Regions from separate parts of the Homo sapiens genome. Here region 1 is linked to region 2. The links come from fine-mapping of genetic effects on gene expression. A gene starts in region 2. The other region holds a variant in brackets. All regions are shown on one strand. Distances are from middle to middle.

The links.
Region 1: its variant is fine-mapped to the expression of KSR1 in monocytes (TOPMed, PIP 0.97). The same link has a PIP of 0.9 or more in blood mononuclear cells.

The regions. Positions count from the first base shown.
Region 1 is chr17:27,526,554-27,531,922 of GRCh38, reverse strand. The region is part of intron 1 of KSR1 (kinase suppressor of ras 1); the gene reads right to left. It also overlaps the pseudogene MSANTD3P1. Among named protein-coding and RNA genes, the nearest start is that of KSR1, 73 kb to the right of the region's middle. The variant T/C (reference allele first, on the strand shown) is at 2,463.
Region 2 is chr17:27,454,055-27,459,423 of GRCh38, reverse strand. It overlaps KSR1 (kinase suppressor of ras 1), which reads right to left and starts at 2,976. Exons shown (of 21, transcript NM_001394583.1): 1 at 2,550-2,976. The coding sequence starts at 2,780. RefSeq lists silencers at 2,117-2,166, 2,687-3,446 and an enhancer at 2,810-3,311.

The DNA of each region.
Region 1 (5,369 bases), 72 kb before region 2:
GGTAACGCTGGTTCCCTATTTTTATTTAACAAACAGGGACTGTTTTGAGAAGTGTATAAAATGCTAACTCATTTCATCTGGGGAGGTGGGTGTTATTACTATCCCCAAGTGGAGATGAAAGAGAGATAAAGTAACTGTCCAGGGTGGGAGGTGAACCTAGGCAATGTTACTCCACCATCCAAACCTGAGCCTTGAGTGCCACAGTGGCCTTTGTCACTGCAGCTCCTCAGGGCGCTGCTGGCTATATGCTGAAGTGCTCTCTGGAGCTCAACAGCATGCCCCAAGCAGCTGCTCAGAGGAGCAGGGCTGAAGCCACCTCCAGCACAGCACACATCTCAGCAGCCCCACAGGAGGGGTTCTCCCCCAAGCACTCGCCCACAGAACACAGGGGCCAGATCTTCCATGACGGATCCGAGTGTGGGACCAGGCAGAAAATGGACTCAGGTATTCACTACACCCCCTCCAGAGACCTGCAACATGTGACCAGGGCCACCCCCTCAGCTTACTGTCAGGGGAAAAGGTTTGCCAGGCAGCCCCTTCAAAGGCGTGGCCTCCCCGTCACCTGCACCTTCTGTAACCCTGGGCCTGTGAGGCAGAAGGGGGCCGCCCTGCAGTGCCAAGGCCATGACCCAGCAGGCAGGACTCTGCACCTTTGTGCACAGCCTCCTCGAGGTTCAACATCTTGAGCTTTCTTCCTGAAAAAGGAAGCTGTTTCTCAACATATTGCTACACATGGAGACTGAGAAACACAAACCGAGAGGCGAATAGGGCACTGGCCCCAAGGGAGGAGAATGAAGCGGGGAAGGGCTGGTATGGGCCAGTCTGCCTGAGGTAACCAGCCAAAGGGACAAGGAAACGCCCAGCACAAACTTGTCCATCCCGACATTGTTTACAAGAGGGACACAGTGCAAACAACCCAAAGCCCCAACAATGGAAGCACAGCTAAGGAGGTGATGGTAAAACCACTTACTAAACTATGACAGAGCCACTGAGCAGGTTTACAAAAACATAGGAAGTTTTTTGTGTTATTTTACTAAGCGACAGGCAGGACAAAAAAATCTACATGATGGATGGCAAGAACTACGTAAGCAAAACCTCGCACACAAAGTCTTTGCCTGGAAAACACAACTGAAAGAAAACACAGCAGAAATGTCATCTGTGAATGGGCTGATCTGAGTGGGAAGGCTATAGGTAATTATTTTCTTCCTTCTACTTTTCTGTGTTTTCCAAATGTTCTCTAATTACTGCGTACTGATTTTATAAGGCTATGAATGGGAATAATACATTTTAAAATGTCACAAGAGGAAAAGGGAGGGTGCTGGTGCTTCTCTTCTAGCAAAGGGAGAAAGGTCCAGGAGCCCACGGTAGACGTACTATTTGGAGCCGATCCCTGCTCAGGCCGCCATGCCCAGCCTCACCACTAAGGTCGGCTTTGCTGGTTACTCCATCTGCCCTGCTGGGTCTTTTTTTTTTCTTTTGAGACAGGGTCTCACTCTGTTGCTTAGGCTGGAGTGCGGTGGTGTAATCACGGCTCAGTGTAGCCTCGACCTCCCAGGCTCAAACGATCCTCCCACCGCAGCCTCCTGAGTACCCGGGACCACTGCCACACACAACTACACCCAACTAATTTTTGTATTTTTTGTACAGACAGGGTTTCACCATGTTGCCCAGGCTGGTCTCAAACTCCTGGGCTCCAGCGATCCACCCACATCAGCCACCCAAAGTGCTGGGACTGCGCCCAGCCCCTGCTGGGTCTTTAGATGGAGCAAAACCTCACTGATTCCAAAGGCAAAGATGCGGAAAGGAAGAGAGCAATTTCATAAGGTGGCATTAAACTCATTTTGCTGACGGGTGTGGGATGGGTTGGTTGGTTTGTTAAGAACAGTGTGTGTCCATCTATCCATCCATTCAAGAGTATCGAGTACCCACTAGTTACCCAGTATGGTGCCAAGGCCCTGCAAACAACACAGAAATGAATGACCCATCTCCTACCCTAAAGACCTCAGATTCAAGTGGGGGCCAAAGATATCAAGTTGCAATGCAAAAGTGTCTTTGACAAGGGTTTTCAGATACACACAGGCTGTGAGAATTCAGATATGAAAATTAAAGCTTCCAGCTTCAGAGAAAAGACGGGTGTCGGGAAAGAGTTCATGGAAAAGATGAGCTTTGAATTGGGTCTTGAAGAATGACTGGGGTTGCACAAACAAGTCAGTTAAACAGGCCAAGGAAATATACATGTTTATCTCAAAGGAAAGTTACCTCTGCCGGCAACCATAACAAACCTCCCACCTTAATAATAAGCAAGGAAATACAAAATGGAAACATATGGGCAGATGTTTGGCAACATTGGCAGAGGGACTCCCCAGTGTGGCTGTGGCAGGAGCATGGCAGGAGCGTGGAGCGGCATCGCCCCCCTGGAGGGCAGCAGAGAAACAGGATGATGCAACAGAAGCCTCACCAGG[T/C]GGCCCTCACCCCTTGAGCCAGACTCCACTTCTAGGAATTTATCCTAAAGAAACAATTAAGTGTAAGCATAAGCCTATTCACGGAAGTGTAACTTAAAATAGCCAAACATGGGGAAGTAGGTAACTACATTCTGGTGTGTCAATCACAGAACACTATGAGGCAACTTTTTTTTTTTAAGTCCCTTTTAACAGTGTACTTAATCATATGAGGCAATGCCCATAATCTTCTAGAAAGTTAACAACTCAAGGTAAGAAAACTACATTTGCAGTATGATCTTCACATATCTTTTTTATTTTAATTTAAGGCATTAATTTTCTTTTTTCAACTTTGAGGTCAATTTCTATTTTTATAGCAAAATTAACATCTCAAAATGTAAACACTGGAAAGTTTTATTATTTACTTTTTTGTATTTTTAAAGAACGGGTGTCATTTTTATAATCATAAAATGTTATCCAAACTGAAAGAATAATAAATGGAGTTTTTTTATCCAATAGGTTTTTGGGGAACAGGTGGTGTAAGTTTTGTTTTGGGATTTTTGTGGTTTTTTTTTCCAGTAGAGACAGGGTCTCTCTTGTCACCCAGGGTGAAGTGCAGTGGCATGACCGTAGCTCACTGCAACCTCACACTCCCAGGCTCAAGCAATCCTCCCACCTCAGCCTCCTGAGTAGCTGGGGTTACAGGTGAACACCACTATACCCAGCTAACTTTTTTTATTTTAATTTTTGTAGAGGCAGAGTCTCACCATCTTGCCCAGGCTGGTCTCAAGCTCCTGGGCTCAAGAGATCCTCCTTTCTCAGCCTCCCAAAGCACTGGGATTACAGACGTGAGCCACTATGCCTGGCCCAGAAATGGAGTTTCAATAGGAAGAGAAGAGGACATCCTCAGCTTAAAAAAACAGCAGGAGCCAGAAGTGAAGAAGTACAGGTCTCTCCTGGGAAGGAGAAAGAACTGAACATCATGATTAGACAGAGCTGGGCTCACATACTGGATCCACTCTTTTCTAGCGGTGTGACCTTTAACAAATTACTGATCCATTCCTGAGCTTCAGTTTCTTCCAAAGACCAAATGTGTTAAAGACTAAACGTGTTAACTTGGCCAGGCACAGTGGTTCACACCCGTAATCCCAGCACTTTGGGAGGTTGAGGTGGGCAGATCACCTGAGGTCAGGAGTTTGAGACCAGCCTGGCCAACATGGTGACACCCTCTCTCTACTAAAAATACAAAAATTAGCCAGGCATGGTGGCACGCACCTGTAATCCCAGCTACTCAGGAGGCTAAGGAACAAGAATTGCTTGAACCCCAGTAGGCAGAGGTCGCAGTGAGCCGTGATGGCACCACTGCACTCCAGCCTCGGCAACAGAGTGAGACTTCATCTCAAAAATAATAAAAAACAAAATAAATGCATTAACTTACACAGAATACCTACTCGATACACTAATTAGGTCATAGCCTTTTCTACTGACCAATAAAACAAATTCCATCCTGGATGACCCACAAGAGGTAGGGATGTTCATTTATGAGACACATAATCAATGTAATAACAGCATTTGGGGAGAGCAAAGAATTACTACATTAAAGACATCGTACAAAGCCTCCCAATTTCAGAAATATTAAACTATGAAATATATCCTAAAATCAAGAAACTATGAAAATTTGTGTCTTCTAAAGATACTGCTGACCAGGATAAAACATTTGGTGAAAGCCCAAGATATTATTGTTTTTCTCATGATTCTTATACAGTCTGATTTGTGCCCCAAACAAGAAGTCAGGCCGGGCATGGCTCACGCCTGTAATCCCAGCACTTTGCGAGGCCAAGGTGGGTGGATCACTTGAGGTCAGGAGTTCAAGGCCAGCCTGGCCAACATGGTAAAACCCCATCTCTACTAAAATACAAAAATTAGCCAGGCTTGGTGGCTGGTGCCTGTAGTCCCAGCTACTCGGGAGGCTGAGGCAGGAGAATCGCCAGGAGGCGGAGGTTGCAGTGAGCCAAGATCACGCCATTGCACTCTAGCCTAGGTGACAGAGCAAGACTTTGTCTCAAAAAAGAAAAAAAAGGGGGGGGGGGGGGCGGGTGTGCCACTGCAGTGTCTCCTTTTGTTATCCAGGCTGGAGTGCAGTGGTGCAAACATGGCTCACTGTAGCCTTGACCTCTTGGGCTTAAGCAGTCCTCCTACCTCAACTTCCCAAGTAGCTGGGATTACAGGATAGCTGGCGGCCAGGGGAAATATAGTGGAAAATGCAAAACAATGAAATTATAAAACCTGCCAAATACTTCTCAGAACTAGAAAAGAGTACCCTGCTGATTTTAGTAGAAAAGTACAAATATGTGCTGGAATGTAAGAAAAGTGATGTGTGAACTATTGCCCTTAAGCAATCAATGTACCTGCAGGCGCTGACCCACGAATGCAACTCTCAGCCGAGCTGTCCCTGCCGGATTTCAAACAGCTGAAGAAGGGCTGGGAGAACATCAAGGCTTGGACTAAAACAATTATGGCCCATGAAAGGAGAGAGAAGGTGAAAGGGAGCGTCAGCCCCCTCCTGAGTAACCAAGTCCTAGGGAAGGAGATCACCAGCATGCTGCTGGAGCAGCTCTACTTCCTGCAGAGCACTCCTTCCACCCCTCCCCCCGGAGGAGGAGCCCAAATACCACGCCACGGCCCAAGAATCATTTGCTGTTTCAAATAGAGAACTGTGCGATGATGAGAAAGAGTTCATACGTTTTCCAACACGTGAGAGGACCTCTCAACCTGAACCCTCGTGTTCAGCTGTCAGAATAACAGCCAATAAAAACTACATGAGCAAAATCTCTCAGGAAGGTGCTTTAAAAAAGATGCACGAGGACTGAACATGATCAACAAATGTCCATCTTACAATTGCAACTGATACAAATGAATGAGGTGCATTGT
Region 2 (5,369 bases):
TGCAGAAGTACCTTTCCCTAAAATCCAGATTTACTGAACCCATAAAGTAGGGGGTTAAGTTTCCCTAGCAAGGGTCCAGTAGGGGTTAAGTTTCCCTAGTGGTGGCCTGTGCCATAAATGCTACTGGACCCTCACTAGGGGCAGCTGCCAGGCAGACTCTTTTCGTAGTATCAGCACGGACTGACAGACAAAATGCTGCAGGTGTGAGCAGTCTCGTTCCTATTTTACAGACAGGAGAGCTTGAGATTCAGAAGTCATGGGACTTGCCTAAGGTCACACAGACAGAACCCAGGCCCAGTATGAAAGCCATGGGGCTTCCTATTCACCACGCTGCTCCTATGGCAAAGATTCTTCTAATAAACTTAACCCCTATGTTATGGGTTCAGTAAATCTGGATTTTAGAACCATTCTTAAAGAGGGTTATTCTTAAACCAGGGTAGTATAAAAACAATCACAAACATTTGATTTCACCCAACCAAGTCTCCTTCTCTAACCTAGAGAATTTCGAGCTTCCAGAGCCCTCAGAGATCCACTCCAGCCTCCTTGTTTTGCAGGTGAGGAGGCTGAGGCCTCCGGGATGAAGTGACTCATCTAAACTAGCTGGTGGCAGCCCCATGGAACTCACTCCAGGGGTCTAAATTCCCATCCCCCAAAACAACCCAGGCCCTGCCTTTTCAGGAAGTGGAGTGAACCCGAATCCACATCACGGTGGGAAGAACAGGGAGCTGCAGATCCCCTGTGGGCCTTTGGATGGGTTCTCTGCTGCCAGGGATGATCGTCTAAACAAACACTCAGGAGGGAAGCCACTGAATAAACCAGCTCCAACACTTAAATAGCTGGATGCTCTGGGGTGTCATGAACGCCACACTGCCATCAAAATGAGGGACTCCGGAAGTTAGGGTAGGACAAAAGGCCATTCCAGAGAATGCACAGCAAGTGGTTCTCCTATATACACACTCTGGAAGCCAGGAGCACTTCAGAGCAACGTGGGGACAATCCCACAGAGGCCAACACAGAGAGCATTCTCCAAGCCCAGCAACACCGAAGTCCAACCACGCACACTCTGCCAGACAGCGACCCCTCCTCCCGGAACTGAGCCTCACAGGCCCCCTATTGTTGTCAGCTTAAAAACTGAACTTTGCTGAGCAAACACACTCAGCTGTGTTCAAAAAATCAGTTTCTCTCAATACTTGGAAAACTGCAGCATGCATGCAGAAAGGCCAGTTGTAGGGGGTTTTGTTTGTTTTTTAAGCAAAGCCTTGGTCAGTACAGCTTTAGCCAACTGTAATAAAAAATAATAATACCCAGCACTGACTGTATTCTTCCAATGTCCTGTGGTTTTATAGCTTTTAAGAAAATAAAACTGAGGGAGAGTCACCCCCGAGCATTTGGAATCAAACAAGGATTCGGCTTTGTGGCATGCCTGGAGGAAGGATTGGTCTTGTAATAATTACCGCGATCACAGAGGGCCTTATGACAGCTGGCAGAGGCAATTAGCAATAAGGGGCGGGGGGAGGGTTTGGGGGAGGAGAAATTGAGGATCTAATAAAACAAAACATCCCCAGACCTGCAGGAGGCCAGATGTGGCAGGGCAAGATGGTGAGAGGTTCCTTCTTCAAGACGGGGCAGCTATTAACTGGTCTGACGTTTCACCGCCCCGTCCCTGGCCAAAATCACATTCAGAATCCACTAGTTGCCCTCATTTGTGTATGGACAGGGTGCCCCAACAACCCTCGGGCTGGTTTTTCCAAATCCTTCAGATACTTCCCCAGCTATAATTTGAGAGAGGAAGGCCCGCATATCTTATTTCTTCTTTACACTCCAGACTGTCTCCATCAGAACCCTTTAAACAGTTTCATCTTCCCACCAAAGGCTTGCTTCCCAGCATAATCCTTCCTAAGCCTAAATCCAATCTTTGGGGGGAAGCAGGGGGAGTCAGCGGGTAATTATTAATACATTTTAAGCAGCGAGCCTCCGTGGCAACGTGAAAGGAAAGCACCAAACGCCTGAATAACAAAAATGCAGTTTCAGCAACACTTTTTGAAAAGGCGGCAGACAAGACCTGAGAGGAGAGGAAAGGAAGGGACAGGACGGCGTCTGGGGCGTGAGGGGAACAGGGGACGGCAGGCCTGCGATCACGCTTCAGGGGAACCTCCTCCGTCACCCTGGCCCACGGGTGCTCGGCTCAGTCACACGGGGAAAAGTCCAGCTTGTGACTCGGTGGGACAACGAGTCCTGCGGCCCCGCAAACTGGAAATGGGGTGGGGGCGGAGAAGGGGGGAAAGGGGATGTCCGCGCGCAGCCCACCCCGCACGGGCCCCTCGAGCCTCCATCCCAGTTCCCACGACGCACCCGCCCCACAAATCCTGCCCAAGATGAGGGCTGGTCCCGGGTCCTCCGGCTGCCGCATCAGCGAGTGCAGGAGGGAGGGGAAGCCTCCAAGGGGGGCGACGCGGGCTCAAGGATGCAACTCGGCCAGGAGTACTGGGGCCCGGAGGGAGGTGTCCGGGCCCGCTCCTCGAGCCCAGCCTGGTCCCCGACCCACTTACCTCCAGGGTCCGTATCTCCTGCTGGGTGAGGTCGTTGGACACAGCGCACTTGGTGCGCAGCCCGCGCAGGCTGCCGATGGAGATGTCGATGAGCTTCTGGAGCTGCCCGCACTGCTGCAGCGCCCGGCTGGCCGCGGCCCCTGCGCCTCCCTCCGCGGCCGCCGCATCCCCCCCGCCACCGCCCTCCTTCTTCTCTCCCATCGCCGCCGCGCGCAGCGCTGCTCTATCCATGCCTCGGCATCGGGGCCGCGGCGGCCGAGGCTGGGAGCCCGGGGCGCGGGCGCCTCGGCAAGGAACCCCCGAGCCAGGAGAGCTGGACCAGGAGCGCCCCTCGGCGCTGCCCGAGCCGGGACGCCGGTAGAGCCGGCCGCTGAGTCTGCCGCTTCCACCCTCCCAGCCGCGGCAGCAAAGCGAAAGCCGCGGCGACCCGACGGCTGCGGCTCCCGGAGCCTTTAAGCGGCGGCGGGGGCTGGGTCAGGGCGGCCGGGCATGCTGGGACTTGTAGTCCACGCCGCGCACCTGCCGCCGGCCTCCGCCCTCGGGGCCCCGGACCGCGCCCGCGCCGCCCTCCCTGCCCTCCTCTCCCCTCCCCTCCCGGCGGCCGCGGCGAGGCAGGCGGTGAGGGCCGGCCCCAACCGGGAGCCCCGGGTGGAGCTGCTCCGCGCCAGCTCCTCCCCCAGGCGCCGAGAGTCGGGGGAGCAGCGTCTCCCCGTCCGCCTCCGTCCCCCACCCGGCCTAGGAGCTTCCCGCGACCCCCGGATGGGGCGGCGCCCCCTGGACGCCCGGCGGGTGTGCGTCCCGCAGTTCCTCAGCTGCAGCCCAGCCCTGGAAGATGGGGACCAGGGAGGTTCCAGGATTTGTATGTGGGTTTAGGGGCTGCCATCTAGTGGGAAGGGGCTTACAGCACTTCTGTAGCTGGCTCACAAAGCGCTCTACTCTGGACTGCCTGCGCCAAAACGATTGCTCAGGCTTGGAGAAAGACGAAGAGCTTTCTTCTGAACCACATTTACCTGCCAAAATAAGTGTCCCATTCCCCCGCCATTCCCAGCCCACCAAGCCAGCCCAGACACGGGGGACAGCACACTGAATTGTCGGTGGCTTCGGAGCAAGTGGCCAGGATTCAAATTCTGACTCCACCACGGTCTAGGGTGAGACTTTGGGCACGTTCGATTTCCAGTGAATGCCCGACTCTCCTCATCAAATAACTCTTTAATAGGGTTCCTATGAAGAATCAGTTAATACATGTACAGCACCTAGATTGATTACTGGCACATGTGGTCGCTGGATAAATGTTAGCAATTCTTACTATCTAACCTCAGATCTGAATGTGGCCCTGGACCCAGGTAGTGGCCATGGAGCAGTACAGTACTGCCAAGGACTGGTAGTCCTTTGTCCTCTGTGCATTTCTGTGCCTCCTAACCCAGCAATCAAGCCTTGCCCATCTGTTCACCCTCCTCTCCCATTAGTTCACCCCATGCGTTCTATTATCTGGCAAAACTGAAAAACCAAGTCTCTGATCAAAGCTCCCACACCTTCATGCTTTCGACATCTGTCAACCAGAAAAAATGTCTCCCCTCTCAATTTTCTCTTGTAAGCTGCTTGATTGCAGAAGCCACTAGCTATTGTACCCTCTTTATAGTGCCAGATACAGTGCATGGCACACAAGAAAGGCTCCAGCGTGCCTCAGGAGCTCTTTCAGCAGGTCCTATGGGATGTTTCTTTTACCTCTCAGGCCAGCCGAGGGTGTGTGTGTGTGTGTAGATAGACAGTTGTTTTTTTGGTTTTGTTTTTGTGTTTGAGGATGAGAATTGGACAGGAGGTGGGATCCAAACCTTGTAGACACTAAAACAATCAATAATGGATGGCAGTTTGTATTACACCTTCCTTTAATGTTTATATTACACCAGCCTTCGAAATAAATTAAGGGCTGGGCACCGTGGCTCATGCCTGTAATGCCAGCACTTTTGAGAGGCCAAGGGGGAAGGATCACTTAAAGCCAGGAGTTCGAGACCAGCCTGGGCAATGTGACAAGACCCTGTCTCTAAAAAAAATAATAAATTTTTAAAAATCAGGTCTAGGAAGCAAAACTATAACTTTAAAACTTGTTTTTGCAAATTAACCCCTCCTCGAGATTTTCCAAATGCAAGGAGGTTCCTCCCTAACCCCTGGCCTTTCCCATTGAGAGTCATTGATCCAGTCCTCACTCAACTTATAAAAAGACCGCCTGCACGATATTATGAATTTCTCAACCTGTTACCTTAACCCCATCCGACTCCTTGCAAAGTAGTAACTATTATGAAAGGGAAACTAGTTGTGGTTCTCAAACTTGAACATGCATCAGAATCACTTGGAGGGCTTGTTAATTCCCAGAACCATGGAGCTCACCTCTATAGTTTCTAATTTTGTAGATCAGAGGACAGGGCAGGAGAATCTGCATTTCTATCAGGTTCTCAGGTGGTACTGATGTGGTTAGTCTGAGCCCAGTCGCAAGTCTATACTTTGAGAAGCCTAGGCACAGAGGAAGGTCAGTGGGCAGAGAACTATCTCAAGGGACTATCCACAACCCAACCTGGCTGGTTCAGAGCCTCTGTCCAGCAGCCAGAGCTGCCAGGCTTGAACGACTCACTCATTCTAACACAATTCACAAAAGATTTTTTTTTTTTTGAAACAGGGTCTTGCTCTGTCACTCAGGCTGGAGTACAGTAGCATGATCATGGCTCAGTGCAGCCTCGACCTCCCAGACTCAGGCGATCCTCCCACCCCAGCTTCCCAAGTAGCTGGGACTATAGGAGTGTGCCACCATGCCCGGCTAACGTTAAC